Linked DNA regions of Homo sapiens: regions 1, 2, 3, 4, 5 and 7 are each linked to region 6. The links come from fine-mapping of genetic effects on gene expression. A gene starts in region 6. Each other region holds a variant in brackets. All regions are shown on one strand. Distances are from middle to middle.

Region 1 (4,067 bases), 110 kb before region 6:
GGAACCTTCATAAAAACCCTTAAATGGTGGGATTCAGGGAGCTCCTGGGTTGATGAACTTATCGAGGTGTTGCTAGGTGGCAGGCCCAAAGAGGCATGGAAGCTCTAAACACCCCAAAACCCCTTCCATACCTTGCCTTACGTATCTCTTCCATTTGGCTCTTCTTGAGTGGTATTCTTTCTTTCTTTCTTTCTTTTTTTGAGACGGAGTCTTACTCTGTTGCTCAGGCTGGAGTCCAGTGGCGCAATCTTGGCTCACTGCAAGCTCTGACTCCCAGGTTCACGCCGTTCTCCTGCCTCAGCCTCCCGATTAGCTGGGACTACAGGTGCCCGCCACCATGCCCGGCTAACTTTTTGTATTTTTAGTAGAGACGGAGTTTCACCGTGTTACCCAGGATGGTCTCGATCTCCTGACCTGGTGATCCGCTCGCCTCAGCCTCCCAAAGTGCTGGGATTACAGGCGTGAGCCACCGCACCCGGCCTTGAGTGGTATTCTTTATAATAAACCAGTAAATGTAAGTAAAGAGTGTTCTAAGTTCTGTGGGCCATTCTAGCAAATGACTGACCCTGAGGAGGAGGTGGTGGGAACTTGATTTATAGCAGGTCAGTGGGTATCTTGGGGCAGTCTTGTGAGACTGAGCCCTTAACTTGTGGGGTCTGTGCTAACTTCAGGTTGTTAGTGTCAGAATTTAACTGATCACTGGAGACCCAGTTGGTGACCAGAGAATCAGAGAACTGGTTGCTGGTGTGGGGAAAACTCTGACACATCTGATGTCAGAAGTGTTCAGTGTAGAAACAGATCATGGTACTGTGATTTTATTGATGTTATAGTCACAGGAACTGCTACAGGCTGAGGATCCCTAGCCCAAAAATCCAAAATCTAAATGCTCCAAAATTGGAAACTTTTGAGCACCGACATGACACTCAAAGGAAATGCTCATCAGAGCATTTTGGATTTTCAGATTTGGGATGCTCAACTGGTGAGTACAATGCAAATATTCCAAAGCCCTAAATCTACAACACTTGCTGGTCCTAAGTATTTCGGATAAGGGATACTCCATCTGTAATGCTACTGGGTTTGCTGACTACATTCAAAATCAAAGAAAATATTAGATTTTCAGTTACTGGTTAGTGAAAATAAAGATGTGAACCAAAGAAGTCCAGAGGATGGGAGGTATCAGCTACATCTCAAAAATACAATCACCACCACCACGAGTCATGTCTTGGGACCATGGTGCATATGTATTGCATATATGAATAATGCAATAAAGCCAGCCCCACCATCCAATGCAAACAAATCCACTTGAAAATGAGAAAGCCTCGCCAGACGCTATAGTCATCAAAGAAATTAAAATCAACATGAAGAGCAAACTCTAATGGGGCAAAACTCAAGTGTCCATTAGTTAGAATAATGGAATTAATTTCTACACAGTATAAATTCTTCATCAATACCAGCACATTATAATCTTTTCAAATGTTACAAGTACTCAATTTTAGTCTGATGTGATTTATTGCCTAGCTAGTCCTTGGAATACAACAACTCAGTCCAATACAGAAACAGATGGAAAAGCATTTTCAACTGTCAACTTGGTATTATCACTGCCAATGGAAAAACAAGAAAAGCATACCCAATAAATACCTTTGATATCTCATTTCAATAAACTGTTAATTAGGTTGCAGCTCACATCTGACAACCACTGCAGGCAAGTGGGCAAGCCTTTCCTCTAGAATGTTCTTCCACTGACTCTCCTCCACTAGTGTCTGCAGGTTCTTCCAGATCCAACCCAAATGTCTCCTCCCCTCCCTCCCCCCACAGGCCTGCTCTCCCAGGTCCTGAGGGCACCTGGTCTTCTGCTGTAACACCTGTCATAGCCCTGAGCCCTTCCCCTACACCACGCGCTGGG[G/A]GCAGGATGCTGTTTGATTCGTTTCTGTGTACTTTGCGGGCCTACATCAGAGTATTTGCTTAACACACACACTTTAATGTGTGAGGCAGTTTCTGTTTCTCTAAAAGTGTAAAATTCATAATGTAACAGTAATTCACTTCGATTAAATATATTTACTTGAAAATACACCAAAGTGTTGTAGGTAAACTTTACCTACAACATGTAGGTTAAACATGAAAGAAACATAAAACCCTTCCACTTTCTTTTTTTCTTCTGTTTTTGTTTGTTTTGAGACGGAGTCTCACTCACCCAGGCTGGAGTGCAGTGGCTTGATCTCAGCTCACTGTAACTAACGTCTGCCTCCGGGTTCAAGCGATTCTCCTGCTTCAGCCTCCAGAGTAGCTGGGATTACAGGCGCCCACCACCACACCCGACTAATTTTTGTATTTTTAGTGGAAACAGGGGTTCACCGTGTTGGCCAGGCTGGTCTTGAACTCCTGAGTTCCCAAGTGATCCACCTGCTTTGGCTTCCCAAAGTGCTGGGATTACAGGCGAGAGCCACCGTGCCCAGTGGAAAAGCCTTCACTTTCTAACTTTACCTAATATGACGTAGGGAAAGTGTGACCAACAGTATTTTATATAATCAAATACACATGGAGGAACGTAAATTTCTGACACCTTCTCTTCAACCTGGTCATTTAAGTTAATACAATATCTCAGGCATCAATACCACTTATCAGGCCCACTGTGTGCCAGAGGCCATGCTTTCAGTGGATTACATCTCATTTAATCCTCACACCAACACTCTGAAGAAGACACCCTCATTCCCGTTTTACAGAAGGCAGACTATCAAGTCAGAAACTGTGCTGTGCGCTGGGCTGAAGAGTGGGGACAGACAGGTAACATGATTTAGAAAACAAGGCAACAGAGGCAAGGAGACTGACCACGTGCAAAGAGGGGAGGTCAGGAGGGGAGGGACAGAGAAAACCACCTAAGAGCAAGGAGGCCCGGTTGGTCAGGGGAGGCAGACGAGGAGGGAGGTGTGGAGGAGGCCCAGGACAGCCCGACCCAGCTGCCAGCAAACAGCTGAGACTGAGACAGCTGAGGACTGCGAGGTGGGGACTTGGCCAGGTTTGCATTTCCAACGGATCACCAGGGCTGCTGGGGAGAGAATGGGCTTGATGGACATAACAGCAGAGGAAGGATGACAGGCAGAAGGATGAAGTGGCAATGGCTCATTCACCTGCCTTCGTCCTCAAGAAGACAGTCGCTGGAGACAGGGGTCTTGTAACCCAGTGCCTGGCGCTGCCCCTCACACCCAGAGTGAATACATCACTGATGAAGGAAGAGACAAGCAACTGAGGAGAGAGAAGTGACGATCTCACCTAGGGCAGTGGCAATACAAATGGAGAGGAGAGGATGAAGTCAAGAACTATCTAGAAGGTAAAGCTGGCAAGAAGTGGTAACTGAACGTGACAGATGAGGGCTGAGGACGGGGAAAGGTTGGGAGGGTTCAGTGGCTAGATGGCAGAACCACTGTGACCAAAAAAAATCCAGAAATCCGAATACAGATTACAACTCAATATTTACTCACATGGGTTTTCTCTTCTCAAAGACATCTTATCCCTGAACAAAAAGTGGGAACTGTGCAGACAGTGAAACCAGGGTGTGCTGCACCTCAGAGAATAATCCCCTCGCCCATCCACCCTCAGTCTACTCTGGCATTCTGGCAAAAAATTCTCTTTTAAAAAAAAAAAAAGTAAATGTATATGAACAGCTGTTATTTCTTCTACTTATTTCCAGCAAAAGAGACAGAATTTTCAATAGTGCTTATTAATAAAACAGATCTGGAAGGGACTACGTGTGGTGGTCTCTGGGTGGTAGGAATATGTATTTGGGCTTATCAGTATGTTATTTTTCATATATATGTATTTTTGTAATCATAAAAAAGGTTATTTTTAATTTTTTTAAAAGTACATTTTTCTTAAACTTTAGTCTTTTCAAAGTTACCATCTACTGCTACTAGGTAAAAACTTCTAGGGGCAAAATCATTTGGAAAGAAGAAAAAAATCTTCATCTTAGGATAAACTCTTTTAATGTACAAGTGAAACGGCATACAGTTCTAAGTGCCCCCAAATGCTTCACGACATAACACACAAAAGCCTTTAAGTCAGGAAGCACAATA
Region 2 (4,067 bases), 230 kb before region 6:
AGCTGAAGTCTCTTAAATGTAAGAAACTACTAATAACCTGTGCTGGTTTCTACAGCTAAACATTGCCACCATGTTTCCATGTGGCATTTCACCATGACGCTCACAACACACACACTCACGATCATTCCACACGTTTGTGATATGCCTCCTCCATGCCAGGCATCATGCAGAATGCCGTTCAGAACACAAAGTGGTAGGAAACAGTTCCTGCTCAAGAGAGATTTAAGTTTCTACATATCTAGGATGGCTTAAGCATTTGCAAGGTTTGGACTGACTCATACCTGATTGATGGTCTTTTCCATCTGTACCAAGCCAAGGTTGGGTAGCGTGCTTTTTATAAAGTCAACTATGGTTTCTAGGTTTTCATGCTGCAGAATCAAGGGCTTATGGCTTCCCAACAGACTTAAAGCCACTTTAAATATGACCTCTGTTCCCTGAAGAAAAATCATATCTGAGAAAACACAGAAATGCAGAAAGTTAAACCAGACCAGTTTCTCACGCAATACCATTCCATTGCCTTTTCCACACATCACAGAGCAGGAGTGTGGGAGACATAGCCCCACATTGCAAACTTTATTTCATTTTTAAGAGCCTGATATCTCAGACAGTGTTGTCAAGACAGTATTGCAAATAAAAGTACATAAACATTAAAAATTATGTTTTACTCTGAAAATAAAATTCAAACATGCTTCAAAAGTTAAACTGGGAAAGGGAAAAAGGTTTTATTAGTCTATTTTTCCAGGAATGCTCCTGGGTTTTAAAGGAGATACTAAAACATGTTTTTATGGGTCACACTAAAAGATTTTTATAGATAAAGCATCAGAAATTAAGATAGAGTAAGTGAAAAAGTGTCTCTGTTTCCTCTGTTTTGAAACAAGGAATAGAATTCAAAGATCTTTAAAAACTGTACAACAGCTGTACAACTGCAGAAGTACTTTGTTAAATACAAGTTTACTGATTTTTAACATGATAATGGAATAAAGAACATTTTTCCCTCTGAGGAGTTCAAGAACTCTGTCAAGGTTACTTCCTAGTTCTGGCCATATTTTGTTCTTAGAGTGGCTGGCAAATGGATGCAACTTCTATACAGACTGCAGAATAAGAGGGAGGGCACCGGCCAAGGCAAGCGGCCGAGCAGCAACCCTAGCCCTGTCTCACCTTCCTCATAGAGTTGAAGCTGCTGGGGAAAAAAAGAGTCGATGTCCTGGGGTTAAAGCAGAGCCACGATAACTAATTATTGGTTGACTAAACTGAGGCAGGTTACCTAATAACTAGAATAATAATATAAGAAAAAAACAATTTTAAAAATCAGAGTAGAAATATAATTGGAGGCAAGTGTCAGTATTTCTTTTCTCTGTTTCTTTTGGCTGAAAGATAATGGAAGAGAGAAAGAAGCTGTAAATTTCATCAAATCAAGGAAAGCAAAAGCAGGTGAGAGGAATAACCTTGCAGGGTGCCTCTCTAGATGGTTAATATGATAACATTTAAAAGCCACGAAGAAACAGAAAAGCAAAGACTGGGTGCTGCTGTGCAAATGGGAAACTGAATCCCTGTAGTTTCTGAACAAAGCACAGGCAGAGATGACAGACCCAGGAGCCCGCTGGCTGGGATAGCCCTCGAGATCCTCTGTAACCACCACAAAACCCTTAATTAACCATGTGAGCTGAGATGGGTGCAGCCCTAAGCCATGCCAGCGCTGAGATCAGCCTGCTTCTCCCACCCAGCTCAGGGTCCACACTCTTTCCACAAACATCACAACTACTGATGGCTCAGGGTGGCCGCAGGAAAGTGGGGAAGATGAATCCTTCACTTCCTTCTTAAGTCTGGTTGTTGAGGCTGGGAAGATATACTAGAGAACTAACTGTGTCTTTGAAATCAGAGCTTTTCAGGGTAAGTGTTACATACACCAAGGCAGGCCAATTGAAGAATATTCCTCTGAAATATCTGGTTTATAAAATGTAGTCTACCTGTATAATTCCCCACTACAGAAAATAAAAAGATCTAAAATAATACTATAACAAAGATGTATTTTTAAACAGAAATGACATTTCCAGAAACAAAACTCTAAAGTAAATTTGAAGTTTCAGTGGTTTACACAGTGAGACTTCCTAGACCTCCTTTCAATATATGAACTTTTATAGCTGAACAAAAAATGAGGGCATCTTTCAGAATAAAAATCAAGACCTTTTTTGCAGGGATCCTGGGGAAAGGCTTTCCCTACAACACCAGTGATTTTCTATAGCTTGGTCTCTACTCTCAGAGGGACAAGTGCCTTAAATTAGGTACAGTACCACATCTACGCCAATTAAAATAAACAATTACTGGGAAACTTTTGTCAGCACAACCAAATACAGAATCCACATCAGTGGTCTCTTTAGGTTAACAGGAGATCTTCTGAGATTTATTAGGATCTTGGTTTTTTT[A/TA]CAATAAATCAACTTAGTAAGTGCTTCCTATGATTCCAAAAGGAGACTTTCCCGGAAAGGAAATTTGGAGGGGAGAGGGTGGTGTTATGTGTTTTAAAGTCTCTTTATTGATATGTTAAAAAATTAAGACATAGCACTGGGCATATGATTTATTTTATTATATCTGTTTGTATTTAATGTAATTAAAAAATAAATGTTCTTTCCCAATGCTATTCACAACACCTTAAGAGAACTCTGCTGAGAGGTGTCTTCTACTTTAACTTAATGAGCATCTATTGAGCATCTAATACACATCAGGCACTGTATTAGGCTCTGGAGATTAAGCCATGAGCAAAACACAAAGAACACGCTGCAGAGACACCAAGGAGTTCTGGTTCGGTAGAGTTATGCCCAGGGTGTTACGAGAACAAAGAGGAAAGAAAAGGCCCACAGAAAGGTGACTGCTTGAAGAACCAATGAAAATTTCCTAGGTCAGACCTCAGGATTAATACTCTGAATAAAAGGAAAATAGGGTGTCAATACAGGGAGGTGTGCAGGAGCCTGAAAAACAGTCTGGCTGGCAAGGCAGGGGCACTGGTTGTGCAGGGCAGAAGGTGGGCAAATGGGGGCACGCAGGTCCAGATCACCAGGGGCCTCTGCCCCAGCCAAGCAATTCTAACTTCCCCTGGAGCACCGCAGGAGTCGCTGAATGCTTATTGTTCCTTTTCTCACTAGGTCAGTGCACTGGTAAGGAGATGATGTTAATGAGATGCAGGTTATGGGTATGACCCCTGCAAGGGCTAGTTAGTGTCAGAGAAAGGCCACCTTTGGAGACTACGCTGATTGATTCCTGCCAGAGACTCCCAAATGCCTGCTGCCAGAGATGCTCCACTCACCACCACTCCTCCCATTCAAAGCGTCCAACCCTCCAAGGCCGGAGAAAGTTCAGCCCCAGAAGCTTCTGTGAGACACAGGGGGTCTTAAATCGGGAGATCATTTGGGTGCACAATGCAGGAATGTGCTTGAATTCAGAGTTGAAGGAAGGACTGCAGGAAGCTTTGCTTGGGAGGAAGGGCCTCCTAAATTTGTCTGATGACACTTGGGGACAACATCTTCATCCTTTAAAGCATTTGTACCGTTTTTTGGCTTTGGAAATTTTTTTAAATCACATCTAATTTTAAAACAATAGTAAAGAAAAATGTTACCTATAAACCCACTGCCCCAAACCAATTATTTTTATTTTGCCTGTCTTCCGGTATCTTATACATTTACATTCTGGAATTTTTTAAAACAAAACAAAACAAAACAAAACAAAAAAACAATAACTCTCCTTGGAAAAGTGAGCAAATGTCCTGCATTTGAAAACCTCCCTAGGAGACAGTGAACTGTTGGAGCCGCCCAGCGCAGTGAGGCAGTAGCCTAGCTCACTACACTGTAGCCCACGTCCTTTCAGTGGGACTTTTCTCCTGCCTCTTCCTTCTCTCCTCTCCTTTTTCAAGCCACCTAGAAACAGGCAAGACGTTTTATCCGGCAGGAAATAGGAATCTTAAATTCAGCTGACTCTATTACTTTGCACTGTATTCGCTGGGAACAACACAAAGGAACTGCTTTTCTTTGAGGACATTTCAGCAACCCTCTTATTGCGTTACTGTGTATTGGAACTCT
Region 3 (4,067 bases), 92 kb before region 6:
GTACTTGTTCACCACTCTTCCAACAACAAAATCAGAAATCATAGAAATTTTAAAATGGAAAAACCAGATACTTAAGATTAGATTCATAAATATCATAAATATAGGCTGGGCGCGGTGGCTCACGCCTGTAATCCCAGCACTTTGGGAGGCTGAGGCAGGCGGATCACAAGGATAGGAGCTTAAGACCATCCTGGCCAGCATGGTGAAACCCCGTCTCTACTAAAAATACAAAAAAATTAGCCAGGCATGGTGGCGCGTGCCTGTAGTCTCAACTACTCGGGAGGCTGAGGCAAGAGAATTGCTTGAACCCGGCAGGCAGAGGTTGCAGTGAGCCGAGATCACGCCACTGCACTCCAGCCTGGGTGACAGAGCAAGACTCCATCTCAAGAAAATATATATATCATAAATATAACCAAATAAAGGTCTTCCTATAGGTTGTACAGATGTTCGTGAATATTACTGTGCATTCTAAAATAAAATTCAAAAGCACTAACATTTTCTTTTTTTTTTTTTTGAGACAGGGTCTCACTCTGTCACCCAGGCTAAGTGCAGTGGCACAATCTTGGCTCACTACAACCTCTGCCTCCCAGGCTCAAGGAATTCTCGTGCCTCAGCCTCCCAAGTAGCTGGGATTACAGGTACACGCCACCACACCCAGCTAATTTTTGTATTTTTCTAGAGATAGGGTTTTGCCATGTTGGCCAGGCTGGTCTCAAACTCCTGGCCTCAAGTGATCCACCCACCTCAGCCTCCCAAAGTGCTGGGATCACAGGTGTGAGCTAACACTCCTGGCCTAACATTATTTCTATTCCTTAAAAGTCAATCAAAAGAAAGGGAGTAGGACTACATCAGCTGTCATTAAAGAAACATAAATTAAAACATCTATGAGGTACCACTACACACCTATTAGAATAATCAAATTCCAGAATACAACATCAAATGCCTGTGAGGAGCAAAAGAAATTCTCATTCATTGTTGATGGCAATACAAAATGGTATAGGCACTTTGAAAAGCAGTTGAGTGCTTCTCACAAAAACAAACATAATCTTACATTACAATCTATCAATCATACTTCTTGATATCTACTCAAAGGAGCTGAAAACTCATATCCACACAAAAACCTACACAGAGATGTTTATAGTAGCTTTACTCATAATTGCTAAAACTTGGAAGCAACCAAGATGTCCTTCTGTGGGTGAATGGATAAACTGTGGTACATCCAGGCAATTAATATGATTCAGCACAAAAAAATGATCAAGCCATTTTAAAAAAAAAAGCACACAGGAAACTTAAATGCATATACTTAGTGAAAGAAGCCAATCCGAAAAGGCTACATATATACTGTATGATTCCAACTACATGACATTCTCTATAGGCAGAACTATATATACATGCTCTATAAATAGTATGAAGATTAGTGGGTTGCCAAAGGCTTATAGGAAGGGAGGGATGAATCGATCACAGAGGACTGGTAGGGCAATGAAACTACTCTGTATGATATTATAATGCTGGATATACGTCATTATACATTTGTCCAAACCTGTAGAATGTATATCACCAACAGTGAACCCTAATGTAAACGATGGACTTTGTGTGATAATCATATGTCAATATAGATTCATCAGTTGTAACAAATGCACCATTCTGGTGAGGAATATTAATAACAGGGGATGCTGTGCATGTGTCCCCTGTTCTTCTGTTTCTATCAAAACATCTGTGAGTTTACTATGAAAATCACAAAGCTTGAGAAGTTCAGTGGGGACAGGGGCTATATGGGAAATCTCTGTAACTTCCACTCAATTTTGCTGTAAACCTACAACTGCTCTAAAAAATAAAGTATATTTAAAGAAAAAAGGGAAGAAGAAAAAGCTGGGCACAGTGTGGTGAC[C/T]GTACAAAGCATCATACAGAATGAAATACACAGCTATAAGAGTTTGGGGGAGGGATGGCGGACACAGTGGCTCACGCCTATAATCCCAGCACTTTGGGAGGCCGAGGCAGGTAGATCACGAGGTCAGGAGATCGAGACCATCCTGGCCAACATGGTGAAACCCCGTCTCTACTAAAAATACAAAAATTAGCTGGGTGTGGTGGCACCTGCCTGTAATCCCAGCTACTCGGGAGCTGAGGCAGGAGAATCACTTGAACCTGGGAGGTGGAGGGAGCCGAGATCGCACCACTGCACTCCAGCCTGGTGACAGAGCGAGACTCCGTCTGAAAAAAAAAAAAAAAAAAAAGAGTTTGGGGAAAGATCATCTTTGGCCCCTAATGGGTCTTCACTGCTCCAGAATAAAATACCAAAGGGGTCTGTATGCCATGCTCATCCTGGTCCTCATTCGCCTCTGCTACTCCCCCCAGCAGTCTCGCTCCAGGCCCACCAACCTCCTGTGAGTGCAGCTCCACCAAGGGGCCTCCAGGCCTTAGCATACGCTACTCTAACTGCCTGGCACAACCTGCCCTTCCCGTTATTCTCTGCCCTGCTTAGTACATTCGTCAATGAATGAATGATTAATCAGAGGTGCTTCAGGAAAGGAATGAAGGATGAGGAGAGTTTTGATAGAAACAGAAGAACAGGGGACACACATACAGGTTAAAATCAGATTAAAGAATTTGTCTAAGGAAACAAATTATACTTTATCTTTTTTTCTCATCAGGCATTGCTCTGGGCTGTGTTCTATTTGTGGATTAGGTGGGATTTCTATCTCTGCTCTCCTCCATTCTCTTTCAGTAAAACCAACCTACGCCCAAGTTCCTGGCACACTCTAAGCAACTAGAGTTCCCAAAGCCCAAAACACAGCTGCCACCACTACCAGATAAAAAGTGCTCCACAGGAACTCTGCTGAAATCCTGGTCAGGGTTATACCAGCTTTGCTTAGCCGAGGCAGCACATTTTTCAAATTCAAGGAATGGTTTGACTATGACAAGGAGTTCTCCCCTCCTTATTAAACTCAAGCATCCACTAATAAAATGTAGTATGAGTCTACAGAAGAAAAAAAAATTTTAAAACAATACATCACATTAACCTAGGACACACATCAAGGACAAACCAACACTGGACTGACTTCAAGCAACACAAGAAAATTGTTGCCTAAATATTTGCTATAGTCAGATTCACACCTTACATAGGAAGGCTGCTGTGCTGTGTGCTGGTAAACAGAAGGGCAACTCCTACCGCCTACCGGCACCCAAGGTGGGCTGGTCTAGTCTGCAGGAAACCTCAAAGGTAAATAAATAAGCCCAGAGTCAGGACAGAACTTTGCATGGAAGCTGTGCTTAGAAGAAAGAGATGATGGAAGGGCAAGTTGTACTCGTACTCAACATATAAATAGCAATTAGTTACTCGGTTATTTGCACCAAACACAGACAAACAAGATAGCAAAGCCACTGGGTCACATCATTTCAAAATACAGACAATGACTATCCACTGGTATTCCTTTCTTATTACTGAGGTCCAAGCTACCACTATCACCTCCTATCCGAACCAAAACCACCTCCTAAGTGGTCCCTCTGCTTCCATCCGAAATATACATCAGCTGACATCACTCCTCTTTTCCACATCTTTAACGGCTTCTGACTACACTTAAAAGCAAATCCAAACCCCATTCTAAGCCTATGGAGCCATAAACAGCCTGGCCCACCTTACCCCTCCCCACTCAAAGCTCAGTGCTGTGCACCCAGCTGGATATATTCCAGCCATACCTCCCTTCTCCCTGAGGCCTGCCTGGAGCATGTTTCCTGCCCTCTCACCAGTCAGATGGAATGCCACCCCTGCACCACCCCAGCCCGGAGCCACTTACTTCTCTTCCTCGCACTGATCACCATCTGAAATAATCTTGTTCACCTATTTGCTTGCTGCTTTGCTATCTCTCCCATCTAGAATTCCATGAAAACAGGGGTCTGCTTGTCGGTTGCTAAATCCCCAGCTCCTCAAATAGTACCTATTATAGGTAGGTTATCCATAAATATCTGCACTGAACACATTTGTTAAATGACCTGTTGAATGAATGGTGGCTAGATAAACCAATGTTTTAAAAGTAATGCCCAAATACGGAAAACCTGGTTTTACATAA
Region 4 (4,067 bases), 100 kb before region 6:
GAAAAAAATAAAGATCAGCCTTAAGGGGAGGCGCAGGGTAATGAAATCTTACTAATGTAATTCTCTCCTTTAGAATGTATTTAGTAAAATCTTTCATTTCACAGACATCTTAAAAAAGATTCTTCATAGTGTTCTGATTCTCTCTCTCTGTCTCTCCCTCTCTCTCAGGATGGCATCTACTCCCCAAAAACTAAGAAAGATGGTTTCTTTCTCTACATTTCCAGCTCTGAATTCTTTCCTAAACTTCGCTAACATTTCCAATCACCTATTTAAAGAATCACCAGGCCGGGCGCGGTGGCTCACGCCTGTAATCCCAACATTTTGGGAGGCTGAGGCAGGCGGATCACCTGAGGTCAGGAGTTCGAGACCGTCCTGGCTAACATGGTGAAACCCCATCTCTACTAAAAATACAAAATTAGCTGGGCATGATGACACACGCCTGTAATCCTGGCTACTCGGGAGGCCAAGGCAGGAGAATCACTTGAACCCAGGAGGCGGAGGTTGCAGTGAGCTGAGATCGCGCCACTGCACTCCAGCCTAGGGGACAGAGTGAGACTCTGTCTCCAAAAAAAGAAAAAAAAAAAAAAAAGAATCGGCCAGGCATGGTGGCTCACACCTGTAATCCCAGCACTTTGGGAGGCCGAGGCGGGCAGATCACGAGGTCAGGAGATCAAGACCATCTGGCTAACACGGTGAAACCCCATCTCTACTAAAAATACAAAAAACTAGCCGGGCGTGGTGACAGGCACCTGTAGTCCCAGCTACTCGGGAGGCTGAGGCAGGAGAATGGCGTGAACCCGGGAGGCGGAGCTTGCAGTGAGCCAAGATCGCGCCACTGCACTCCAGCCTGGGTGATAGAGCGAGACTCCGTCTCAAAAAAAAAAAAAAAAAAACACCAGACTTCTAGTCCTTGACCTTAAAATATCCACATCAAGCTCATTCTCTTTTCCTTAAAATAGGCCTTTCTTCCTACTTCCTTGTTTCCCAAATGCCTTCTAGGTAACTGGGCTCAAAACCTGGTAAGTGGCTTCTGCTCTTCTTTCTCCTTACTCCTTCTTTCCCTCAGCTCTTTGGGTGTATATTCTCTCACCACGAGCCCAAAACCTCAAGCGCTGGTCCGGGCCTACACTTGCTTCAGCCAGACCCCAGCAAGACCTCTCCTCTGCCGCCTCTGGCATCTCCCTACATCCATCCTGCTATCCAGCACAGCCTGATCTTCTGGAAACACAGGTCTGATGGGGTCAGCCTCCTGCTCACAAACCTTCTAGGGCTCCTCTGCAATCCCTACCAGAACAAACACAGTCCTGCTAACCCTCAGGGTCTCCCACCAATGGGGCTCCACTCAACTCTTCCTGCCTTATTTCACCTGGCTTCTTTCTCTGTAAGTTCCGTTTGTACCAAACATGTTTCGAACACACCTCCTAAGCCTCTGTTCATTTGGGTTTCCACCTCCATACCTTTGCTCATGCAGTTTCTTCCACCTGGAATATTCTTTGTCACCCCCTGGATGGGACCTTTGAATCACTCACTCACCTTATTCACTTTCGGGATGAAATGCAGCCACAGGAGGCTGGAATGGCTGGCATCTGGTCACAGAGCCAGGCTAGACACAACTAGACCTCCCCAGTAAGGACTGGTTTTTTAGGCAACACTGGGTCCCTATGATTTGCTTTTATTTGGGATAAAATCGTCCAGTGTAAAATTTCCTTATTAGGCTAAAACCTCTAAGCCCACTAAATTTAAAAAAAAAAAAGAGAGAGAAGAGCTGCCAGTGCCCACATTTCCAGGGACTTGCAGGAATTCTCTGAAACTCACAAGCCTTACCAGGTCTGCATGCTCGTGTTCAGCAGCAGGTGCTAAGTGACTGTAAAGGGCTGTGGTGCCCACCCTGGGGTCTTCATGCAGGGCTTGAGGGTAGAGTCACCCTCTGCCCCATAGTGACAGGCCAGCTGGGCTCCACTGCCTCCATCTACTCAGTCAGGATTAGCACAAAAACTTGTTAGAGAGGTTTAAAGAGCCCCCAGATCAGCGGAGAGGTACTCCAGGACACTGTGGACTGTTCTTAACACCCACACCCAAGCCAAATCTCTGGCACCCAGAATAAAAATGATGTTTTTGAG[AAGG/G]ACAATATCTAAGTTAACAGTGTATAGTCAGTTCTACTTATCCCTGATCAAAATTAACCGTGAGGTTGTAAAGTGGGATTTACTACATTTGGGAAATTATTACCTCTGTATACCAAGGGGCTACTCAGAGGTTTACAGTTCCCCACCTGCTTTCTGGCAGGCTGACTCTGTGACTGCCTTCACCACCTTCCCCCCACCCACCCCCGCCCCAGGTCAGCAGCTGGGTCTCTCTCATCTTGGCAGTTGTGTCTCAAGTGCCTGCCACAGAGTAGAGGCAAAAGAAATAGATTGTGATCAACACTGAGCTTGAAGCGGCCAGATTTCTTGACCAAGAACGTCTGGAAACACCACACTACTCCCCCAAATAGTGTAGTTATTGCAAAACAAATACAGAGTTGTGTGGTCTGGTGGTCTAGTACATCCAGCTCTTTCCTTGGGGAAAAATATCCAGAGACCACATTCTCAGCTGATTAACACACTAGAGAATTGACAAAAATCAAACTTTGGTACGATGTTCTTTCAGTTACACCAAAACTGGATGGCACAGACTTGAAGGGCTGCTTTTACTGAAACACTAGTGTGATAAAAATCCCTATGTATTATATTCACATATTTCTGGAAATGGAAGGAGAATCCCTTCCCTTCACCTGGAAATTCAGGAATACAGCTTTTTCTGGAACCGTAAGAAGGCTTTGGCCTTAGATGTACTAGCAATATTTCATGCTTATTATACAATTAATTGATTAATAATCAGTACACAAGGGGCCACAAACTCCTTACTCATAAGCGGGCTTTTGGTTGTGTTTCTGAAGTCAAATTTTACAAGTTCTAATACAGGGGTATCCAATCTTTTGGCTTCCCTGGGCCACACTGGAAGAATTGTCTTGGCCCACACATAAAATACATTAACACTAATGATAGTTGATTAGCTTAAAAAAAAAAAACTCAATGTTTTAAGAAAGTTGATGAATCTTTTTTGGGCCACATTCAAAACCATCCTGGCCTGTATGTAGCCCACAGGCCGTGGACTGGACACTTGCTCTAACATTTTAAACTTGGAAACTTACATATTTCTTTTAAAAGCCTAACACAATAGAGACTGTCACAATAGACCAGTGTAAATGTCCCTAAGCAAATAACGTCTCAAAAATCTGACAGTTTATTTCCACCTAATGACTGGTTTCCTTTGGGCCCACCCTTTAAAAAGAACTTCCGCAAAATACCACTTGGCTAATTCTCTGCCTTGGGCAGTCCTACAATTATAAATTCTGCTAAACAAATAAACTTCCTTCCTATTTTTAAAGTATTCCAAAATTGGAAACTCTGTGTCTTTGGTTGGCAAACTATTTTCTGGAGTCTAACAGCCTTAGCCATGAAGAAATTCTTCATTGCACTCTGAGAGACGAAAAAAACCAGAAACTGTCAAGGAGTCCCTCCCTACACCTATTTCAGGGAAGGGGAACTAACCCCACAGAGTTGTGACCTTGGGCAAGGTCACACAGGCTGCTGGTGGCAGAAGCCAATGTCCTCCTCTCTCCCCCATTTTCCCCTTAACTGATCTAAGTTACTTGTGGCCTAAAGAAAGCAGTTTGCTCTTGTTCTGTACTAGGGAACAGGGTTTATGTTTAATTCATGCAGAATGTGCTAGAACAACAGAAAGAATCTAAATATTAGTGTCAGCAAAAAGAATCAATCTCCGTAAAACATTTAAAGAGATTTATTCTGAGCCAGATGTGAGGACCACGACCCATGACACAACCCCAGGAGGTCCTGAGAACACGTGCTCAAGGTGGTCGGGGCTATAGCTTGCTTTATACATTTTAGGGAGACATAAGACATCAATCAATATATGTAAGGTGTACATTGGTTTGGTCTGGAAAGGTGGGACAACTTGAAGGTGGAGGGGAGGTTGCAAGTCATAGGTGGATTCAAATATTTTCTGAG
Region 5 (4,067 bases), 42 kb after region 6:
CCTCCTGGGTTCAAGCAGTTCTCCTGCTTCACGCTCCTGAGTAGCTGGGATTATAGGTATGAGCCACCACACCTGGCTAATTTTTGTATTTTTAGTAGAGATGGGGTTTCACCATGTTGGCCAGGCTGGTCTTGAACTCCTGACCTCAAGTGATCCACCTGCCTCGGCCTCCCAAAGTGCTGGGATTACAGGTGTGAGCCACCGCTCCCAGCCTAGTAGAGTCTCTTTCAGTTCTAGCCTGCGGTTTTTAACTTACCACGCCCAGCTAATTTTTGTATTTTTTAATAGAGACCGGGTTTTGCCGTGTTGGCCAGGCTGGTCTCGAACTCCTGATCTCAAGTGATTTGCCCACCTCAACCTCCCAAAGTGCTGGAATTATAGGCATGAGCCACCACATCCGGCTTCCATATATTTTTTATAGCTTATTTATAATCACGCCTAAGTGCCTAAAATCAGCTTCAATTAATTGTATGGTTAAATAATTTATTCAAATTATTTTAAAAGGTAAATAGAAAAGAGGTTAGTTGAAAAGAGAAGACATTACTTACAGCTTTTTTATCAGGTTGGCTATCATCATAGCCAGTTGTAAGGTCCCTAATGGCAGAAATTTCAAATTTGCCACAAGCTTTTGGATAATTATTTTTTCCATCGTAGTTTCTGAGGTTTTCAAATAATTTCTTAATGGTTTCTTGATCATGGCAGATAAAATAGGAAGCTTTAGTAATATGGTAGCCATACCTATCAAACAAATACAAATTCATGCACATGAGGAACAAATAATTTTGTAGGGTGGACACAGAACATGTACCAACCAGTGTATTCTAAAATAAATATGGCTGGGTGTGGTGGGTCACGCCTGTAATCCCAGCACTTTGTGAGGCCGAGGCGGGCAGATCACCTGAGGTCAGGAGTATGAGACCAACCTGGCCAACATTGAGAAACCTCGTCTTTACTAAAAATACAAAAATTAGCCGGGTATGGTGACAGGCACCTGTAGTCCCAGCTACTCCAGAGGGCTGCAGCAGGAGAATCGCTTGAACCCAGGAGGTGGAGGATTCAGTGAGCCAAGATTGTGCCATTGCACTCTAGCCTGGGCAACGAGAGACTCCATCTCAAAAAATAAAATAAAATAAAATAAATAATAAAATAAATGTAACAGCCAAAACTGACGCCAAAGGAATAATTTTTAAAAGACCATTAAAACAGAGGTCTAGGCCAGGCACAGTGGCTCACGCCTGTAATCCCAGCACTTTGGGAGGCCAAGGTGGGTGGATCACCTGAGGTTAGGCGTTTGAGACCAGCCTGGCCAATATGGTGAAACCCCTAACTCTACTAAAAGTACAAAAATCAGCCAGGTGTGGGGACACCTATAATCCCAGTTACCCGGGAGGCTGAGGTAGGAGAATTGCTTGAACCCAGGAGGCAGAGGTTGCAGTAAGCCGAGATCACACCACTGCACTCCAGCCTGGTGACAGAGCAAGACCCCGTCTCAAAAAAAAAAAAAAAAAAAAAAAAAAGAGGTCCAACAATCTACCCCAGGGATCACCAAATGACTGCCTGGTCTTCCGCCTGCATTTGCACAGAGAGCCAGGTCACACGCATTTCTGTATTCTCTTTGGATGCTTACGCACTACACTGGCAAGGCAGAGTTGAGTAAGTGCTACAAAAAAATGAATAGATGTATTATGAAGACATTCAATCTTTTTTGATACTGGACACTTAAAATCACATTCTTTCATGTTGTCATTTGTTAAGAATTAATGCGATCGGGAATAGTAATTACTAACTTGTTACATATCAAAAGGAAAAGGTGATCTCTTTAGTTTTTTTAAATTTTTTTTTTTTTTTTTTGAGACAGAGTTTAGCTCTTGTCACCCAGGCTGGAGTGCAATGGCGCGATCTCGGCTCACTGCAACCTCTGCCTCCCAGGTTCAAGCAATTCTCCTGCCTCAGCCTCCTGAGTAGCTGGGATTACAGGTGCCCACCACCATAACCAGCTAATTTTTGTATGTTTAGTGGAGACGGGGTTTCACCATGTTGGACAGGCTGGTCTCGAACTCCTGACCTCAGGTGATCCACCCGCCTCAGCCTCCCAAAGTGCTGGGATTACAGGCATGAGCCACTGTGCCCAGCCTTATTTAATTTTTATAAGAAATAGAATTCATCACCAAAATAAGAGCATTAGAAAGGATATTAGTATCTCATGCATAAGTATATAATAGAACATTT[CA/A]AAATATTATTTCAATCCAACAGAGTCAATAACAACTTACTCCACATAAATGGCCTTTAGTTGCTGAGACAAAGACAAATTCTTGGTTGCTAGGAAGCTAGCCAACTCTGCACTTATGACAGCGGCACTGACTCCATCTTTGTCCAGAACAAAAGGGCAGCACATGTATCCTGCAGAAACACACGTCATACATACATCTATACAATACTGTGTCAAACCACATATGAGTATGAATCCTGGCTATTGCATATTAGAGGTTGTACAGTGTTGCGTGTATGCACATTTCTCATTAATACCTTATGTTTAGGAATTTAGCCCAGTGCCTAGCCCATAGCAGGCCTTCAAGAAGTATTTGCTGAAGAACCTGCAAGATTTTCCCTCCTGGCCACATGGTGCTCAATCACTAGAGTCATGAAACTCCTTCCAGCTCATGAAATTGTTTCTAATTGTCCTAGTCAATACATATCTCTTTCTTCTCTGAATCCCAATAGTATTTGTTAGTTACATTATTCATTTTGACATCTGGCCTCTACTCTTGTGTGTGATTACTTAACTAAATCTATCTAAGCTGCTGTAGGCTAAGGTCAGTGCCATCCATTTCTTTTAGAGTCACTGAGTAATAGACATGCAATTAATACTTGATAAATGAAAGAAAATCTTTCTTAAAATAAAAAGCTACGGAAAGACAAGTCTGCCAAATCTGACAATAAAAGAGCAGAACCTGAGCGATTATGCTTTGATTAGTTAAATCATGTGTTAGTGTTGCAGAGAATATACAAATGAATATAAATAAATCTAATGCATAATAGTTTTTACTAAATTAATAGCTAAAAGCGTTTGGTACAATGTGAGTTTCAAATTTCTATAGCTAGTTCTCCTTTCTGTTCATTTATATTGACAGTTTAGGACAAGGGTTTTTCTGTCATTCTGGCTGGACCTGGGTCATCCTTTTGGGTGAGTATCATTCTGATGACAGCAGCAAACCATGCCTTCCTTCTCCTTTCCTCTGGCTAGACCGTAGCATAGATCCTCATTAGCACTTTTGGAGGAGGAGGGACATTAAATACCACAGTGTTTAGGCCTGGATATTAACCACCACAGTGGAGGAAACATCACAACTCCCAAAATACATGTACCGGCAGCCAAGCATACAATGTCACTGTTTTGAGTCATCCAGGCAAAGGATTCTGACATGAATGACTTAGTTGTTTTTAAGACATTCCTTTTGGCTGTAAATCATCTGAGATGTCAATTTTGGAGTAGGACAGTTCGACATTCAACCTGAGTGCTGGAGAGGCAAAATAAACCGTGTTTCACTGTGGATCTTTGAATCCCAATCCAAACCTTTTCCTTTTGCCTTGCAGCCAATTCCTTAATGTTCATGATCACTTCTTACCAATAGCTTCTTCAAATGCAAATAAAACAGTTTTCCCCTGGTCTATTAGCTGTTTGGCTCTGTTTCCCATCCACTTAAAGCCAGTTAATGTTTCCTAAAGGGATAATCCAAAAGAGAAAGACATGCCTTAGATCTTCTACAGAGCAGATGAAAGGAAAATGAGTGAGTCCCAGAAACACCCTACCTCAAAATGAAAACCTTCCTTTAAGGCAATGGCCCGCAAGATTTTGGAGGAGACGGTGCTGGACAACATGTACGTGTCTTTGAGAGCACTGCGATCCTGGTTCTTCTCTTTCCAAGATGTAAAAAGCCACCAGCCCAGGAGGGCCCCCAACTCATTGCCTGAAAACACCCTCCATTCACCACTGAAAGAAAAAAAAAACAACAACCACCATTCATTTCCATAATCTTAAGGAAGACTCTAAAGTGTCATGGGGATAA
Region 6 (4,067 bases):
AGGGGTACATCTCATTGTCATTGCAGCCTTCCTGGTCAAAGCTGTCTTCTAGGGAAGTGGGGGACAGGGATTATCACCAGCTGGATAATGAGGAAGAAGGGGCAAGCTCTGTTGCTTCAGAGTTGCACGTTTCCTCCTAATACCCACTAGTGTTTTGACAAACTGTGCCTTATGGGACACCAGGTCAACACTGCATGACTGCCACCCAACCAGAAATGCTGTCGTGGTGAAAAGGGGAAGCCCCAGCACTCTCAGTGGGGTAGATAACAATAGACTATGACAAGGAGACGCATTTGCAAAATTTTCCTTTGAAAACGTAATGTAATAATTTATAACTACACTAGTGATTTTTTTTCCTATTCTCCTGGTTTGCAAATGGCTGGACAAATCCACAGGAAAGAAATTATTTTAATTATCACCTGATGATTTTATTTCCTGCTTTGAACCACTTAGTCCCTTCCAGGTCTCCTTGCACTCAATAGTGTTAGAATGCTCTACTTGTGTTCACTTCAGAAAATGTCCCCTAAACTCTTTTTTTTTAAGAGATGGGATCTCACTTTGTCACCCAGGCTCCAGTGAGGTGGCACAGTCATAGCTCACTATGGCCTCGAACTCCTGGGCTCAAGTGATCCTCCTGCCTCAGCCTCCCAAGTAGCTGGGACTACAGGTGGGTGCCACCACCCCTAGCTCATTGAAAAAGTTTAGAAGTTTGAACTTGTACAGATAGCTGAGTTTCTTGGGTGTGACCTATTTAAACCAGGTCATTTTTAAATGCTCTTTCAAAGTCTGATTTTATTAATAAATGAAATCATCCCATCATAAGGGAAACAATGAGAAATCTATGAAGGGAAAACATATCCATTAATATGAGGCACCCTGAAAATTAAACTGTTTGGTGGAAGGAACAACCATCACTTTCAATTTCTTTTTAAAGCAACTTCCAGAGAATAAGCTATGTTAAGTAAAATCAAAACAGGAAAAGCCACATCTAGGTGGATTTCAAACGAAATGATACCTCTCTGAAAAAAAAGCAAAAACAAAACCTTAATGCCTGGTGAAGTTTGAGGGGGGTCTCATAATCACAGAGCCATCAGGAAGCGGCTAGAAACAATGAAGCAGGGTTTCAAAATGACTGGTACAGGATGTACCCATAGAAAGAAATGTTGCGCGCACTGGTGGAGCTGCCAAAGTTACTACTGCAAAGTACCCTGAACTTTTAAAGCGTGGCTTGGGGTCACTCTGACCACACTCTTTCCAATCTGGTCGCCTTGCAAACACGCTAGGATAATTGGCGGGAGGGGGGAGGGGAGAGATGCGCGGACCAGTGAGCTGGCGGGGGTTGGGGGAGAAGCCGGCGGAGCTCTCGGGTCGCTAGCAACATTAAGGTTTCGCTTTCGTCCAAGGGCGGCGGGGGTGGGGGGGTAAGGGGGGCAACGAGATGGCAATGAACTTCCTCCCCCGAGAGACCCTGGCCTCGCGTCCGTGGGCGGCCAGATGCCTTCCCCTCCGCGGCCAGGCGGGGCAGGGGCGTGCTGCGGGAGGGGGCGGCCGCGACGCCCCGAGAGGAGCCAGCAGGGTGGCCAGGACGAAGCCCCAGGAAGCGCCTTACCTGTGCCGCGGCGCGCTCAGAGCCCGGGGCCGGGCCGGGACGCGCAGGTGCTTGGGGGCATCCTGGGGACGGCCTGGGCGGGCGGGGAGTCCATCGCACCCGGCTGGCTGCGCTCTTCCCGCCGCGGGGGGACGGGGAGGGGGCTCCCCTCGGCTCGGCGCCCGCCTCTTCTCCACCCAGCTGAGGACACAGCAGGTCCCGCGGCGGCGGCAGCAACAGGCACCGGCGGACGGTGGCGGCACCAGGAGCAGCAGCCGAAGAGGAGGAGGAGGAGGAGGAGGAAGAAGAGGAGGAGAAGGAGGAGGTGTCTGCGCGCGGCTCTGGTTTCCTCCTCCCAGCCTGGGCGAGCGCGCTGGAGGCGAGGGGAAGACAGGAGCCGGGATCTCCCCACTCGGTCCCCGGGGAGCTGGGAGGGGGACTCGGTGTCCTCCTCCTCCCCACTGCGCCGTGTGACTGTGCCTGGGCAGCACGGCCCGGACGGGCGAGTCACACGCGAGCAACAGCTGCTGCACTGCGGGTCCGCCGCGGCCTCCCTCCCCTCCTTGCCACCCCCCGCCCCCAAGCCCGCGGGCCATCCTCAGCCAGTGTCTGTGGGGGGAATAGGGGGGAAGTACTCGGGCCGCCGCCCCATCCAGACCCCTGCGCAGGATCTGGGCACAGCGTTTCCCTGGGGAGCCGGGGGCGCGGGGCCCCGCGCGTGATGCAGGCCCTCGTGGCGGGATGTACAGTCGCACACCCTGTCCTTGGCGGCCTATTTATAGCAGGTGGCACTGCCCGCCGCTTGCTCGGCCTGAGTGGCTCTCAGCAGGTGGCACTGCCTGCCCGCTCTCCGCGCTCCCGAAGGCGCCTCGCCTCATCTGCACCCTCCTCTTCTCCCTCCGAAACAGACGTGGTGGAAACTGCACACAACATGGGGGGCGGGGGCCGGGGGCGACCAAGCCACCTTGCTCTCCCCCGCCTTACCCCTTCTCCCCGTCCTTGGAGGATGGCAAGAGGTGAACTGAGGCACGGATGCCCTATGGGGCGCTGGCATGCGAGGCAGGAAAATCAGGGACTCTGGGAAACAACGAAGGCGAAGTGCCCTCCCGGGATTAAACACCAGGAAACTCCATTTCTAACCAATTGCGGGAGTGACGCAGAGCCTGGATTAGGCGCTTTTTCCTGCCCCGCGAGCCCGGCACACGCGCAGGAACACACACCACACGCACACGCACACCCCAGTGTGCATGCCCCGATCAGGTCTGGGGACATTCCCAGCGGTGATGTAGAGTGCAAGGAAAGACGCGGAGATGTGAAAAGCGGGACAGAGCTCGCTCCCTAAGACTAGGGGATGGCAGTGTGCAAAAAACAGGCGAAGCTCCCAGATCCCTATCCCACCAGGCACAGAGGCGCAACGTCACTCGCAGGGTGGGGAGAGGGATCTGAGAAAAGTAAGAAGCATCACATCCTCTCCAGAGAAGAGTCCGCAGGGAGGGGAGAGCCGGGTGCTCGGAGGAGGCAGTTCCAGACCCCCAGGTGGCATCTTTCTGGATTTTTTTACTTAATGTAGCTGGGGGTGGACTTTAGGGAAGTGGCTGAGCGTTTGAGCTGTACGGTTGGACTTGAATCCAAATCCCAGCAGGTGTGGTTTAGGCAAGGTGCTGGACCTCTGGTCTTCATTGTCTTACCTGCTAAATGGGACCAATACACACCTTACAGGATCTTTGTGAGGACAAAGCAGGAAAGTGTAAGTAAAGTGGCCAGTGCAGTGACACAGACGTACATGGTCCTCAACTAAAAGCAGCAGCTATTATCAATATTACTGTGGCCCAGGAGGCAAATAGAGGGCCAGGTTTCCTCATCGTACCAAGAGCAGTGTCTTCCTTGAAGCCCACTGAGCTTCTTGTAGGCTTTTAGATTAGGGCTGTCTTATGGCATTCCCTGATTTCCCTGGATGCTTACATCCAGGGGAGGTATTTTTAAGTGGACCCAAGAGTTTTATTCACAGCTTGACTTAAAACTCTCACAATAGTGGTAGCTATTCTTTACGGAGGAGTTAGTCGATTTGGGGTATTGTGCTAGATACTGTCCTTATATATTGTTGCTAATTTGCTCAAAAACTCTGCAGGGCAAAGATTGTTAAATCCATTTGACTAAGGAGAAAAGTAAGAGGTTAGTGCCTACAGGGTTAGTGGGTGCTGGAATCTCCAAGATCCAAAGCCCTTTATAATATACTTGCTCTCTGGCCACTGTGTAGCCCTCAGCTCATTCTTTGTCATTGAGTAGTTATTTGTGTGCATAGCCTCAACTCTTTTTTAAGAAATATACAGTCATAAATACTGTAATGAGTAGAATGTTAACTGGGTTATGGAAATTATTCTTTAGGTTACAAGACCAGGTAAACCAGTTAAACCATATTGTTATCACTTGGGTCATATCCCAAATTATTTCATGTTTTTACCTTCAACTCTGTTGTAGA
Region 7 (4,067 bases), 54 kb after region 6:
TGGCAAATGACATTGATTACACACAGGCAACCTGAGATTTAAATTGTCCGTCCCCTCCACCCTTTCACCAAGAATCACTGCAGTCATTGAACACCCTGGAAGTTATGTCACATCTCTCAGGTGTTCTGGGCCAAAGAAAAGGGGAGGACGACTCCTCAGTGTGGGCAGAGGATCATGATACACTGGTTCAATTCATGTCTGACATAAAATTAATAGCTATTAACACTTAGTACAGAAGGTAATTAGGATGCTTGAATACATGACAATTTTTCCATCAAACAATGAAACCTGAACTACATTTAGATGTGAATAGAGTGTCTAGCAGGTTATTTACAGCCTAGGGGTGCTGCATCTACCTGTCAGTGCACTAGAGCCGGCAAACACAAAATGAATTGGAACCTCCTTCTGTAGCAATACAGTCTCATTTCTACTAGATGTGACTAACTGCATCCAAATCACATTTTCCAAAACATATTCTCAGCATCTGGCCCAGCTCTTAAAAGTTTTGTCTATGTCAAAGCAACAACTGTCATAGTCCCTACTGTCTTCTTCTTTAGATTGTGCTACATGAAGGATTTGATGAAAGTCTTACTCAAATATGCCGAGCATGCTCTCTGTACTAGCCATGAATAGTATTTAGAATAAAACATTTGTATAAAACAGGGGTGTGCCAGCTTGTCAAAAATATTCATGACAAGACAGGGTTTGAGGTGAATTCAGATTTCGACACAAGAAGTTTCCTAATTGTGATAGCTGAGAAAAAGAACTACAAACCAAATTTAAAAACAGAGAAAAGGCCGGGCGTGGTGGCTCATGCCTGTAATCCCAGCACTTCCGGAGGCCAAGCTGGGTGGATCACCTGAGGCCAGGAGTTCGAGACTAGCGTGGCCAACGTGGTGAAACCTCGTCGCTACTAAAAATGCAAAAATTAGCTGGGAGTGATGGCAGGCACCTGTAATACCAGCTACTTGGGAGGCTGAGGTAGTAGAATTGCTTGAACCCGGGACACGGAGGTTGCAGTGAGCCAAGATCGTACCATTGCACTCCAGCCTGGGCAACAGAGCGAGACTCTGTCTCAAAAAAAAAAATTTGCTGACTCTCTCGAATACCCTTAGAATGCAAAGAAAAGGAAAACTGCAATTTAAAAAAACCAATTCCAATGAATCAAAAGTTGAATACCAGAGAAATATTACTAAGATGTGGGAGAAACATTCCAGGAGAGAAGGAAATGTCTCATACATGCCAAGGAACTCCTCTGTCATTCAAACAGTCCAATCCCAATAGCCCTAAAGACTATAAAATTCAGCCAAGTCCCATCCCTGATCATGTGACAGGAAATTATGAAAGGAAATGGCTACTTACCACAAAGGGGGTTGGCGTTATATCAGAAAAGAGGTACACAGGAATCCCCTGACTGATAAATGTGGTTGCAGCAAGTCGGGCAAACCTGAGAATGCAGAGTGACAGGGAAGAAAAGGAGAGTTGAGTGATCAGGACTGTGAGTGATGGAAAGAAGGAAATGAATGCTGAATGTTCTTTAGGGTGAATGCAGCATCCAGATCAAGGACAGCATTTATTATAATCTTTACCCTGGCATGGGACAGTAAAGCTGGAGGACTCTCAGGAGTCATCTCATTTCACTCTTTTGTTTTATAGAAATGGCACTAAAGCCAAGAAAGGTCAGGCCCCTTTCCCCGGTTCTAACAGCCACTTAGTGGCAGAGCCAGGCTGCTTCCTGGCCTTTCAGCTCTCTGTCTATCTCAGTGGTTCTCAGCCAGGGCAAGTCTGCACCTTCTCCTTCCAGGCATCTGAAATGTCTCGAAACATTTTTGCTTGTCATGCTGGGAAATGGAGAGAGTTGCTACTGGCAGCTAGTAGGGAGAGGTCAGGGGTGCTGCTGAACACCTTACAATGTACCCTACAACCACAACAAAAGATCATCCAGCCACTGTGCAGTCACATGTCAACAGTGCAGAGGCTGAAAATCCCAGCCTAAGCCTATCACAATCCAGCGTACACCACACAGACTGGAATTTGATTAGAGATTGCTTTATTTGAAATATAAAGACATCCTGGAGTACGCATGTGTGTATACACACACACACACACACACCCATACACATATATACATCTTGGTTCCAATCAGCCTTTGAAAGAAAACTTAATTCTTTGACATTTTTCTCAACTTCCACAGAAACTTGCTTAGGGTAAGACGCAGAAAATGGCATCAAATCTTCCTTCAAGCTGGTGTAAAATACGTTACCACAAATAAATGAGCGATTTACTTAGAATGAACAACATTATACCACCCCTGTGAGTTAAACAATCAGATCATTCTTACTCTCCCCAAATACTTCTTGGGCACTAGCTTCGCCGACACTATTCTGAAGGCTGGCTGGGGCACAAAGAGCAGATCGCCACTCTCTCTCTCTGTTACAAATGTGCACAAAAAAATGCAATGC[G/A]TTCTCTGCATATACTTAACAGTTACTGCTTACGTTCCCCACCAGATATTTAAAATTGGAAGATTAAAGGATAAACATCTCCTCGGGCGAAATTCAGAAACTGCAATAGTTTCCAACTCCTTACGAAGATTCCATTCACTCATCATGAATATTTTACCATGTGTTGGTTAAACACTTACATTATGATCTCTAAATGTCTCACGCGTTACAGGTGATAGAGAGTAGCCTTGAGTTCCACTCCATCCCATCCCATCAAACTCTGAGACTTGAACCATAAGCTTAAATCAGTAACATCACTCACTTTAAGGAAATGATACGGCTCCAAGGCCAGGGCAAAAAAATCTGTACCTTAATTGATAATGTTAACATATCTCTGAAGGTTGTATCAACCAGAAGCAGGGCAGTCAGCCCAAAATGAAGAAATTTACGCAGCTCAGCAGACAGACTTAGCCACATACGTGCACTTTGCATGCTCTGAGCAAAGGATCTGACTTGCCCTGGGGCGGCAGAGGAACACGGTCACGATTTAGTTCTGATTGTACATCCACTAACTGTAAATGACAAGCTGATATGCTGGTTTATACCACATCATTCTCTTGTGAATGTAGTTCATGTGCATCTATCCCCCAGAGCTATAACTTTTCTCTTGCTTTATTGACAAAAAGCACATTTTTGAGCTGCAAAGCTAAAGACTAAAAATCTTATGCCCTCCTGAGTTGAACCTGGGGCTGATGCCACCGGGTGATTTTCCCCGGCTATGCACCCTTCCTCACGGCCACACGTTTGTCCCCACGAGTGCTTCTGTCTTAGATTGGAAGCTCCTGATGGGCAAAGATAGGACTCTATAAACTCATCCAGCTCTGTAAAGCTAATAAGACTTTTCATTAATATTCAATATGTGTAATTCTAAGCTACTACTAATACTGATACTCTAGAATGATTAAAAATTCATCATAACAGAGGAAGTGTTCAAGTAAAAAAGAGGGTTATGTAACATGGTTACGGGCAGGGGTTGGTAACTACAGCCCATTTTGTAAGTAAAGTTTTACTGGAACACTGCCATGCTCCTGTGTTTATGCATTGTCGATGGATGTTTCTCTGCTTCATGGGAGAGGTGAGTAGTGGTGATGGGAATCATGTGATATGCAATGTGTATGATATCCACTATTTGCCCTTTAGAGAAAAAGTTTGCTGACCCCTGGTACTAGTGTCCTTAGGCTTAAATTGCGACTCCTCCTTTCACATTATAATCTCAGGGTAAAGAGATAAAAGTACATACCTTACACGTTGCTGTGAGGATAGAATGAGTAAATACATAAGTGTCTGGTTCATAATCAGCACTCAAATGATTGCTGCTATTACTATTATCATTGTCACCATCAGCATCATATGCCTTCAGCTACATAAGAGAGTCCCATTGGTTTGAGAATGTTTCAGAAATGCAGCTTGACGTGGGCGTTCAAGAGAGGGAAGGGGGTCATGAGGTTTATGAATAGCAGGGTAAAAATTATGTATAAAAAGGCAAATGAGAGGGAAAAATAATATTGCCAGTTTAAGAAATTTCTTTCTTTTAGCTAGGTATTACATTCTAAATTGTCTAAATAA

What was found. PIP is the estimated chance that this variant, and not a neighbour inherited with it, causes the effect. A credible set is the group of variants that fine-mapping cannot tell apart.
Region 1: its variant is the best candidate, but not a certain one, in a credible set for the expression of TBC1D1 in whole blood (TOPMed, PIP 0.74).
Region 2: its variant is the best candidate, but not a certain one, in a credible set for the expression of TBC1D1 in whole blood (INTERVAL, PIP 0.52).
Region 3: its variant is the best candidate, but not a certain one, in a credible set for the expression of TBC1D1 in whole blood (TOPMed, PIP 0.64).
Region 4: its variant is the best candidate, but not a certain one, in a credible set for the expression of TBC1D1 in thyroid (GTEx, PIP 0.78).
Region 5: its variant is the best candidate, but not a certain one, in a credible set for the expression of TBC1D1 in whole blood (INTERVAL, PIP 0.89).
Region 7: its variant is the best candidate, but not a certain one, in a credible set for the expression of TBC1D1 in prefrontal cortex (ROSMAP, PIP 0.80).

What each region holds. Positions count from the first base shown.
Region 1 is chr4:37,997,353-38,001,419 of GRCh38, reverse strand. All of the region lies in intron 2 of TBC1D1 (TBC1 domain family member 1), which reads right to left. Among named protein-coding and RNA genes, the nearest start is that of PTTG2, 39 kb to the right of the region's middle. RefSeq lists a silencer at 201-379. The variant G/A (reference allele first, on the strand shown) is at 1,904.
Region 2 is chr4:38,121,346-38,125,412 of GRCh38, reverse strand. TBC1D1 (TBC1 domain family member 1) reads right to left here. Exons shown (of 22, transcript NM_001396959.1): 20 at 282-451. Among named protein-coding and RNA genes, the nearest start is that of PTTG2, 160 kb to the right of the region's middle. The variant A/TA (reference allele first, on the strand shown) is at 2,424.
Region 3 is chr4:37,981,289-37,985,355 of GRCh38, reverse strand. The region is part of intron 2 of TBC1D1 (TBC1 domain family member 1); the gene reads right to left. Among named protein-coding and RNA genes, the nearest start is that of PTTG2, 23 kb to the right of the region's middle. RefSeq lists an enhancer at 3,075-3,174. The variant C/T (reference allele first, on the strand shown) is at 1,889.
Region 4 is chr4:37,989,320-37,993,386 of GRCh38, reverse strand. All of the region lies in intron 2 of TBC1D1 (TBC1 domain family member 1), which reads right to left. Among named protein-coding and RNA genes, the nearest start is that of PTTG2, 31 kb to the right of the region's middle. RefSeq lists an enhancer at 197-366. The variant AAGG/G (reference allele first, on the strand shown) is at 2,121.
Region 5 is chr4:37,846,855-37,850,921 of GRCh38, reverse strand. It overlaps PGM2 (phosphoglucomutase 2), which reads right to left. Exons shown (of 14, transcript NM_018290.4): 9 at 3,811-3,991; 10 at 3,627-3,720; 11 at 2,271-2,400; 12 at 549-738. Among named protein-coding and RNA genes, the nearest start is that of PGM2, 22 kb to the right of the region's middle. The variant CA/A (reference allele first, on the strand shown) is at 2,230.
Region 6 is chr4:37,888,891-37,892,957 of GRCh38, reverse strand. It overlaps TBC1D1 (TBC1 domain family member 1), which reads right to left and starts at 1,874. Exons shown (of 22, transcript NM_001396959.1): 1 at 1,610-1,874. RefSeq lists enhancers at 1-6, 437-566 and silencers at 267-316, 1,346-1,845, 2,166-2,355.
Region 7 is chr4:37,834,909-37,838,975 of GRCh38, reverse strand. It overlaps PGM2 (phosphoglucomutase 2), which reads right to left. Exons shown (of 14, transcript NM_018290.4): 4 at 1,363-1,447. Among named protein-coding and RNA genes, the nearest start is that of PGM2, 10 kb to the right of the region's middle. The variant G/A (reference allele first, on the strand shown) is at 2,463.